2 linked regions of the Homo sapiens genome follow. The protein of the gene in region 1 purifies or fractionates together with the protein of each later gene. This does not show direct contact. Each region holds a gene or a part of one and is shown on either strand. Other genes may lie near its edges.

What was found.
Region 2: the proteins of SKAP1 (region 1) and MYCBP2 purify together in Homo sapiens (affinity purification with mass spectrometry; 3 studies listed by BioGRID and IntAct, with this or other methods). This does not show direct contact.

The regions. Positions count from the first base shown.
Region 1 is NC_000017.11:48,176,671-48,182,214, reverse strand, and holds part of SKAP1 (src kinase-associated phosphoprotein 1), read left to right. Parts: intron 1-1,966; coding exon 1,967-2,161; intron 2,162-5,544. UniProt on the Homo sapiens protein: Positively regulates T-cell receptor signaling by enhancing the MAP kinase pathway. Required for optimal conjugation between T-cells and antigen-presenting cells by promoting the clustering of integrin ITGAL on the surface of T-cells.
Region 2 is NC_000013.11:77,316,548-77,321,598, forward strand, and holds part of MYCBP2 (E3 ubiquitin-protein ligase MYCBP2), read right to left. Parts: intron 1-5,051. UniProt on the Homo sapiens protein: Atypical E3 ubiquitin-protein ligase which specifically mediates ubiquitination of threonine and serine residues on target proteins, instead of ubiquitinating lysine residues.

The DNA of each region.
Region 1 (5,544 bases):
ACAGTATCAACCTTGGGAGGACCTCTGGTATCATAGCTCATCCACCTACCTACAGGCAAGTCTGTAATATTCAAAATCACTAGAAAAGGAGATTCTAAAAATCAGCTCAGCCCAATTCGGTGTCTCCTAACCCCTTATATTCTGGAAAGGAAATTCATAATATCCAACTTAAAGTCATCTAGTTGCAATTGAGGTTCAAAATCTCCTTATTTTAGTCTTAGGAGGAAGTAGAAATCTAAACCAATCTAGATGGTCTTCAGGGACATTGGACATTAAAAACAAACTGTTATTTCCCAAGCCACAATAAGATGTTCCTTGCTTTGGGATGGGAAGAGTCCTGCCTGAAGATGGTAAATGACTGCTCTTAGAGTACCCTCTGCTGGCCAGCCTGTAGGCAAAGCAGAAACAATGGCCAGGGAAGCCTTATCTGGGAGTGGTCTGTCAGGTAGAATAAGCCAACCTTGAGTTAGTCACTCGGTATTATATAATTGTCACCTACCATCATGGCAGGACCCTACCTCTGTTCTGCAGAAAGGCAGAAACACCAACTTTATACATGGCCCAAGACCTAGAAAGACACACGTCAAGCTAAAAACGCAAAGCCTTTTCATCTCAGATTTTTATTCTGCTATAAGATTTTATTGTGGATAAAAAGAAGGAAGCACCAGTGCTTTAATTACAAGAATTGCCTGTTTTACTCAGTTATGCCTTTGCTATCACAAAAGCAAACTATTGCATCTACCAACAGCGTCACGTATAATAGACTGGAACTAGGCAAACATGAACATTGATGGCGAGACTACAGGGTACACTCTCATCTAGGTGCCTTGGATTTATGCGTGTAATATACCCCTAAGTGTGTAAACCTCAATAAAACTCAAAGCAGCTTTATTGAGCTGTACCCTGTGGTACTTTCAGAATCCCACATTGAAGAAATTATTCATTCCATTTTATTTTAAAACAAAATAATAACATATGGTTTAAGCCACAAATGTGTTTTTGATCTTTTCCTCGTATGTGGTGGCACCAAAATTCAGATGAAAATTGTTGCAAAATCTTTATTAAAAGGCTAATCAAGCCAAACAATTTTATTGCATTTTGAAATGAAAGTTGGACGTCTCTCCATCCTTTCCTTCCCCAGAGTATGCTGACTGCACTCACCCATCCTGCAGAGGGCCCTCAGCAGGGTTTCAGAGAGCACTCTGTAGTACACATCAGAGAATGAACATTCTCAGTTCCCCATTAAAATAAAAAACCAATCTCCCTCCCCTGCCCTGGTGCTCCCCAGTGCTGTAATGGCTCAACACCTTCTATGCAGTGACCCACTTTAAGGTCAGCTAGACTGTGCAGTTGCAAAAGGACATGGTAACTGCATTGTTCAGCCATTCCATTTGGTCTTGTATTACTGTTATATTTTTCCATACCCCGTTTCTTTTTATCTTCCACTGTTGCCCATTTTTTTCTCTGCGAACAAACTTGTCTGAAATTCTGCAGTGAAATCACTGGGGAGATAAGCTTCTGACAGCTCCAGCACCCTACAGAGGCCACCTTAGCTCCCACGGCCTGAGTACCCTGGAGGACTGCAAGCCTTCACTCACCCTTCCAGTTTTCTACGTGATAAGCTGTGTACAGCACACTGGCTTTTCCTCTTCTGGCCTATTTTCTTCCCTTTGCCTCATGTTCTCATTCACACACCCATACTTTTCAGGCTGCTTCACTCTGATCAAGTTTTATTGCAAGGAAGGATTTATGTTGATGGTTTAAACCTGATGCAGTGCTATTCTGGCCTTTTCTGTAGATTTCCTGCCACCAAAGCCCACATTAGAAATAATAGCATTTAACCTAATGTTTCATTTTCATTTGACATATTTTACTCTCATCCCTCCTCCTCCTTCTCCCTCTTTCCTTTCCTGTCTTATTTTCTTTTTCTCTGTTTCTTGATTCATTCTCATCTTTGCCTTGTTAGATCTGAGCTCCTTAACCATTCCATATGAAGAGGATGAGGAGGAAGAAGAAAAAGAAGAGACATATGATGATATTGATGGTTTTGACTCCCCAAGTTGTGGTTCCCAGTGCAGACCCACTATCTTGCCTGGGAGTGTGGGGATAAAAGAGCCTACAGAGGAGAAAGAAGAAGAAGATATTTATGAAGTCTTGCCAGGTGAGAAATTTTGTCCTCTGATTATCTTATGCTAGTTTCAGAAATTCATGACCTGGTGGAAGAATAATAACTTTGAAAATTCCAAAGGAAGCCAAATCTAACCCTCATCCTCTGAAGGAGATAATGTGGGACGCTTTATGAGATTGTAGGGAAGTGGGTAATGAGGCTCTGCCTTGCTCTGGGAGCAAGAAGAATTTGATTAATGAGTGTCTTCTATCCATGCCATGTGAAGTAACTTTTTACATGTGTCCACCAGGTTAAAGAGTCAACAATACTTACGTTGGTTTTTATTGGTTTATTGTGAGTTTTGGAATGAGTCATCAAAATTCTCTAGTTTCAACTTTTTGGTGTGTAGTTGTGAGAATAATGGAAAATCGCTTCAAAATTATGAAGGATTTCAAAACTCTGAAATATGCAAATGCTGACCAACCTTTCTAGTAATACCTTGATAGACCAAACCTTGATAGTAAACCTTGATAGAGAACAACTCATTATTACCTAGTTCAGATATACCATGAATCAAATCACATCTCTTAAAAATAACCCTAACATGTTTTATCTGCTCATCATTACAGCAGGTCTACTCAATATATTTCCTTTCTTCCAAAGGCATGAAAACTAGCATCTCAAAAAATGTATAGTCATCACTGCTTCTGCATAGCCATGTCTGGTGGGGATAACAGCAGCTGGTGAATGGTGCAAAGCTCAGTGGGGGTCAGACAGTGGAGAACCAAAGCCTGAGCCTTTTAATTGTGAAGTAGTTAGACCACAGGAACGCTAATCTTCAAGTCCATTCAGAAAGATCATTCCTATGGAAATTTGCCAGGAGTTCAGTGCTCTGCTGAGAAATTCAAGTTAAGCCTAAATTTATAACAATTTAGATCCCAGATGAACCCAGATGAACCTCAATCCCAGATGAACCTAAGAGCTAAGGTGAATCTAACACTCAAGTCCCTGAAGACAGGGCTGGTTGCTGAAAGCATCATCAGTAGGCAACTTGCATTTCAAGGCTTCCTAAGAAGAGCGTCCAACCCTCTCCACACTGCATTCATCTCTTCCTGGGGAAGAAGCTACGTCTTTGCTTCCTGAGTCAAGTGGCAGGACTGTGACCACATGTCCCTGCCCTGCTGGGGACTTCACCCACCCTCCAAGGAGAGCCTGCTTCTTCTCCTAGCACTTCCAGCCTCTACCAGTCCCGACTTCTCCAGCCTTTTTGTTGTGTTTTATTATGCAAATGATATCTTGGTTGAGGTCGAGCCATTTCTTGTGTCTGACGTTAAAAAAAATGATAATTTCCTCAGCAAGTCATCGTCGTTAATGAAGTTTTACAAAAACAGATACAACCAAAGGAAAATAAAATTTCACAGGTGATAAATTTTTCCAATTTCCCTGGCAGAATTCGATAGGATTGTTAAATTAAGAGTGAAGGTGTCTGTTAGAAAGCAACGAGCAGTGATGGGTAATTTTATAGAGTGGAAAATTGAATCAAATTGCTACATTAAAACACAGCTCCTCTGAGAATCTTCCCTTTCACAGTCGGCTCCATTGCAACAGCAGGGTGCAGAAATGGATCTAATTCACAATACTCCCTAAAAGGAGATGCATTCCCCAGCTTGGCCAGAATCTTCCTAGTGAGCTCACATTCTGCTCACTCCTGCCCAGGCTTGGGGAAATATCCGGGTGACACTCCACTTTGGGTTACAACTGTGGAAGAATGCTCTGGGAAAACCTCAGTGAACCTTCTCGGGTGGAAAGAAAGGGCCTTTTTCTGCACCATGTTTCGTTTTCAAAGGAGTCGGGGGGCGGGGGCTGATGCTTAGAGACACAGAGCAAAGGTGAATAAAGAGGAAGAGTCCTCAAAAAATAAGATGAGTTTGGGACTGTCACCTTACCCCAGGAGTGGGCAATGAAGGTATGATTGGCTTCCTAATGACCATCTTTCTCCTGCCTCCTAAACTCCTCCCCTTGGCCAATGCAGCACCGCCCAGAGTATCAGGGCATTTTTCCAAAATTTACACCAGCTGGTATGTTGGAGTGGCCCCAAGGGCATGAAGACTCATCTGTAGGTACATTTAACCTCTATCCACAACAGCTGCCCATTGGAAGTGAGGAAGGCCACACAGTAGGAAATCCAGGATCTCTTTCTGCAGGTTAGGGAAACAACAGCTAAACTGCACCTAGTTTCCAAAGGACAACACTGTACCCAGCCAACAGGTTCTTTCCCATAAGCCTCTATCCATCACAGTTCTTAGAGTCAGAGTTGGAGGTGGGATATATTGGCATTTAATTATGATATGAATATTTCAGCCACAAGTTTCCATCACCCAGCTTCCTGTCCACTCCACTTAGCTGTTGCTTCTGAACTTGCTGTTTGAATTTTGCATAGTGCCACACCTGGAGAAATTAAGAAGGGAATGTGAGGGGGCCTAACACTGTCTCCTTTCTGCTGCCCTCTCATAAGACCATCTACCAAGCAGCGGCACATGAGACAGCAATGGTATCCTAGGCACAGATACTAGCTCTAAATCAGGATGGATTTGCTCTGCCACCTGCTAGCTGTGAGATCTTGAGCAAGTTACTTGCCCTCTCTGTCTGATTGTATTACCTGCAAAACAGGGAAAACAATAGTAGCTGTCTCAGATGGATGTGCTGAGGAGTCTGGAACTGACATGTGTAAAGTTCTTAGCACAGAACCCTGGCAAACAATGGCATACAGTGAGTACTCAGTAAATGCTGGCTGTTATTAATGTGATGGTGTTTAAACAGGAAGTGTTACCTCCTTGAAGAACTGGGGATGGTTAGGTCCCTGCCCTCTCGAACCAGACCTGAGACAGTCCAGTTGGTTATTTCCAGCTATGTGTATGGAGCAGGTGAAACTGAAAATCCTGAGCAGATGGAATGTGGAGTGCACCTTCTGCTCAGGCCCATTTTGACTACGAGGCCAGGTGCTGGGTGGAGGGACAGCCTACAGTAACATTGGATTGTGCTAACATTGCATACCCATCAAGAGTCAAATGATGTGGGCCTCTAACATTTGTTTCCTTATAATAGGTAAATGTGCTTTGTGGAGGATATTTAACATTGACGGTTCTGCTAATCCTCCCTTTTGGGATGGGGCCCACACAAGCCCACACTGTCTCTATAGGGAAAGCCATGTAAGTGAGACCTTCCTTCCAGAGTATAATTTAGATGGGCTTCCTAATAGGGAGAAAAGTGTATGTAATACATACCAAGTCAATAAAAAATGTTTTTTTGTAATCAAAATAACGCATGGGTCATCACATTAAACTCACTCCATCACATTAATCATGGGATAATTAGCATTTGCTATGTGGCTAGCACTCTTCTCCCCTTGAGGGAAAACCAGAGCCCTCAAGGTTTTC
Region 2 (5,051 bases), on another chromosome or scaffold:
TTAGGATTCACTTGCTTCAAATAAGGCATGGAAAAAGTTCCTCCAGAATTCTGGTGAGTGTCATTTCCTGGAGAAACTTTCCAGAGGAAGGAAAGTGGGTCAAACCACAGCCCCAGCCACTACAGACGGTAAAATTGATATCAACAACTCTTCTCTACTAGCCATTCTAGATTCCTTTAATCTATGGCTAGTATTTCTGTTGGTCCAGGTGGCTGACTTCATGGGGTGGTCACTGGGCCTTTCTCGTGTCCATTTACCACAAACACTGGACAAGGAAGTACCAAGAGACACCTTATAGATCACCTGTGTGCCAAACCTCCATGCTCCACTGTGGAACACAGCCCTACCTCCTCCACATGAACAAGGACATTAACCCTGTCCAAATGGTGACTTCTTTTTTTGTTGTTTTTTTTTTGTTTTGAGATGGAGTCTTGCTCTATTGCCCAGGCTGGAGTGCAGTGGCGCAATCTCGGCTCACTGCAACCTCCACATCCCAGGTTCAAGCAGTTCTCCTGACTCAGCCTCCCAATTAGCTGGGATTACAAGCACGCGCCAACATGCCCGGCTAATTGTTTTGTATTTGTAGTACAAACAGGGTCTCACCATGTTGGCTGAGCTGGTTTCGAACTCCTGACTTCACGTGATCCACTCATCTCGGCCTCCCAAAGTGCTGGGATTACAGGCGTGAGCCATCGTGCCCAGCCTGGTGACTTCTTTATTTAGAAAAGGAGCCCCAAATCCTAGTGGCAGCTGTACTTTAAAGTATAACAGGATTCTCATAGCGCCCTCTGTTGGAAATGTTTCTCTTCTGAGAACCAGGATCTTTTAACCCCTTGCCATCAGAGCTATGGAGATGGGAAGCAGAAACTGCCCAGGTGATTCACAGAGTGATGCTATGCGGAGCCACTCCTAATTTCATGTGATCTTCCTACTGGGAACACTGGAGAATGGGCGCCTCACCCTTGCAGGGCATCATGCCCAAGCTGCAGGATCTCATCATCAGCTGTGCCATCAAAGGACTGTTTTACTGCTCTATCAAGTCATCAGCTTCTGGACGGTGTGGTGCAAGATGGGACAAATGATTCTCCTATTCTATAAAAGTGGGTCCCGGCCGGGCGCGGTGGCTCACGCCTGTAATCCCAGCACTTTGGGAGGCTGACGTGGCCGGATCACGAGGTCAGGAGTTCGAGACCATCCTGGTCCACATGGTGAAACCCCGTCTCTACTAAAAACACAAAAATTAGCTGGGCGTGGTGATGTGCACCTGTAGTCCCAGCAACTCAGGAGGCTGAGGTAGGAGAACTGCTTGAACCCGGGAGGCGGAGGTTGCAGTCAGCTGAGATCACGCCATTGCACTCCAGCTTGGGCAACAGAGCAAGACTCCGTCTCAAAACATAACATAACATAACATAACATAACATAACATAACATAACATAACATAACATAACATAACATAACAGTGGGTCCCTTATTCTGAAATGATCCCTGTAGTAGAGGATCAAACATCCTGCAAGCCCTCAAACAGTAGTCCTGGGTGAGACCCTGCTGGAAAGACAAATTCAGACCCAGAATATGTCTCAAATCCAATCAAAATGAATCATGGTCCTTTCCACTGTATAAGGACTGGTTGGCCTGCTTGAAGGATGATTGATCTCTGCTGCTGTCAGGCTGGATATTCAGCAGCAGCAGTTGCTAGATCAGCACTGGTGAATGAAAACCCTTTTATTGGGCCCATGCACAGCCATCATCGGTAATTTTTCCATGCACTCATAGGCCAAAAGAAATACCAAACAGTAGTGTTTATTAAGTAGTTAGATCCAAATAACAAGAATTCATGTCCTAACAAATGAGTAGACATTTGAAAAAATAACACATAAATTGGAAGAAAAATATTTTTATTTCCTTCTTAAAAACTACAAATACTGGGCCAGGCGCAGTGGCTCACGCCTGTAATCCCAGCACTTTGGGAGAACGAGGCAGGCGGATCACGAGGTGAGGAGTTCGAGACCAGCCTGACCAATATGGTGAAACCCCACCTCTAGTAAAAATACAAAAATCAGCCGAGTGTGGTGGGACACGCCTGTAATCCCAACTACTCAGGAGGCTGAGGCAGAAGAATCACTTGAACCTGGCAGGCGGAGGTTGCAGTGAGCCGAGATCGCACCACTGCACTCTGGCCTGGGTGACAGAGCGAGACTCTGCCTCAAAACAAACAAACAAACAAAAACTTCAATTACTTGATAATATGACATGTGTGCCTGTTAGACACAGAACAACTTCTCAAACTTGGAATCAGACTGAACATGCCACCCTCCTTTCCTGTTCCACACTGATTTTTGCACAGTGCTTGATCTGTATCACAACTAGTAAAAATCCAACCCTGCAAAAATATGACATCATCAAAAGAAATGTGGCATGAGCTAATGTCAAAACCGTGAACTACCTCAAGCTAGTAATTTGTGACAGATATTGCTGTGTTTCCTTTAAAATTCTGAAATATCCCATGGTATTCTTTTGTGTCTGTGGTGGTGCTTTGGGGTGCCTTGGTGCAGTTTGGGAACGTGTGTGTGTGTGTGTTTGTGTGTACAGTCCCTTCCTCCCTTCGCAGATCCAGCACCCCGAACTAGGTGTTCTTGTGACTTAACCCTAGTTGTTGGTTTGGTGATAGTCAGTAGGCGAGAGAGGAGGAGCTGGGGGTAAGAGGGACAGCACAGTCTGCAAGCAACCCCTCTAGCTAGTAGAAGAAGGCCACTTCTGCAGGCCCAGAGGGTTAAGAGGAATTTGGGGTTTCAGGGTTTTCAAGTGCACTCAGATGCCCCATCCTAAGGGTCAGGATTCCTGCCCAACCAGAACACTGACCTTAGCATAGCTGAGAGAGAATTCTACCTACCTTGGTGCTCTGCTACCCTTAAAATTAAGTTTTGGGTTGAAGCCTTAGATTTTTCCTCTTACTGTATATGTGTTTCTTTACATGATGCTAAATAAATTTCCTTTTACATTTTGCCCCCAATTATCTTCCACCTTGCATCATCTTTCTCCAATCTATCAATGTTATTTACCAAAAGCCATCTGATGATTGTCCTCATAATTAATTTCTCTGAACTTCTCAAAAGCCTAGTGCACTCACCAGTGCATTCCCTTCAACAGGAATAGCATTCCAACTCACCACCAGTGAAAGTTTTAAGTTGCATAGCTACAGTGCATGCCAAGCGTTATCAGTATTAGTGCTCCATCTAGCACCAGAATCGATTCTCATTGCCAGCCAGCCAGCCAATAATCCAGCTTCAAAACCTCACTGTAAAGTCTACTTTCTGAGACCACTCCTGGCACCAACTGCTTTGGGTAGGAGGGTTCCCAGGAAACAGACTCTCAAATGCAGATGTGCACACCGGAAGTTTATTGCGGAGTGCCCTCCGAACCAACAACTGTGGGGCAGTGAAAGACGTAAGACTGAACAGAGGAAGGAGTTGATCTGCAATGCAGTCCCAGGAAGCCCTCAGCCAGACCCATGGGAGAGCTCTCTGGTGTTGGGATAGACTTCAAGGTTGGCTTGTCTTATAGCAAAAGCGCTAGGCATTTATATCCCTACACTGTATAGATATTAGATGTAAACTGCCCCTGAAGAGGAGGCATGACTCTGGGGGAGGCAACTCTTGGCTCAGGGCAATGCGTGGAGTGGGACTCAGCTGCAATCAGTTTTAGCTGCCAATATTGCCAAGAGCTAGGGGAACATGTGCCTGAAAGCGGGATCTGAAAGCCTAACCACAGCACCTGCCACACCACCACTGGACTATTACACCAATTTGGCTAATGAGGGAAGAGAATTAAGCATTTATGCTGCTGGATTAGGAGAAACTACATTTCACTGACAGTCAGTGAAGGCCAACTCTTCTTTGCAGAAGAGTACCAGCTAATAAACATAGAAGAAATAACAGAATTATTTTTTAATTCATCATTTTGCAACCCCTAATGAAATTATTGACTCAGACAAGGATTATCAAAGAATGCTAAAAGCATTAGGTAAAAGGCATTCACAATGTGCTCAAATTTTTACCCTGTGATTACTTGTTCTTTACAAATGGAAAAAGCATACATTTACAGAGATGAAATCTAGTAGGTACCGTCTTACCCAAGTAATCAGATTTAACATATTAAATAGTGAGACAACCTCACAACCTCTGGATGGGATGCAACATGCAGTACCCAGCGCCATATACAATATTCTTGCTAAAAAATTTTCTAATGAACACCTAATAAACCCTTAAGGTCTAGCTTCCACTTACAGGAAATACAGATACAAGACAGAAAGATGAACAATACCTGGGGGCCCTGCCCTTAAGGAGCTAGATTTATATGACATTCTAGAAAAGGTAAAATATTAGTGACAGAAAACTGATTTGCAGCGGTCAGTAACCAGGGGTAGGAGGGCCTGACAGAACTTTTTATATGAAGTGATGGAAACAGTCTATACTTGACTGTGGTGATAGTTTCAGGACTCTTCAAATGAACATTTAAAGAGGATGAATTTTATTGTATATAAATTAAACCTCAATTAACCTAACCCCTCCTCAGAAAACCTAAATGTTTAATCTGGTTTTTGAGAAAAAAGTGAGACTATTCTGTTGATTTTTTAAACAAATATATTAAAGGACAAAAGTATTTTTAGATTGACATTTTTATTTTCCTTTTAAGCCCAGAGGCAAGATTTTTTTCTTCTCTTGAGTTAGGAAACTAATTCATTTCACATTTCTACCTACCAGTATACCAATAGAGCAGTTTTTGCCTTAACTTGTGTTTATACACTATACAGGATTCCACTGATATAACAGCTACATGAAGAAAATTACTACCTATGCACAAATACAGATGTACACATACAGATTCAATCCCGCATTACTTCCTGACATATTCCTACAATAAATAACGTCTCTTCATAGCTTAAAACCATCAAGGGTGATCAGTGTCTACTGAATAAAATCTAATTCTTACCTTGGTCTTCAAGATGCCCCATCCTAGCCAAAGCCTCCATTTCCAGAATGAATTCCACTAC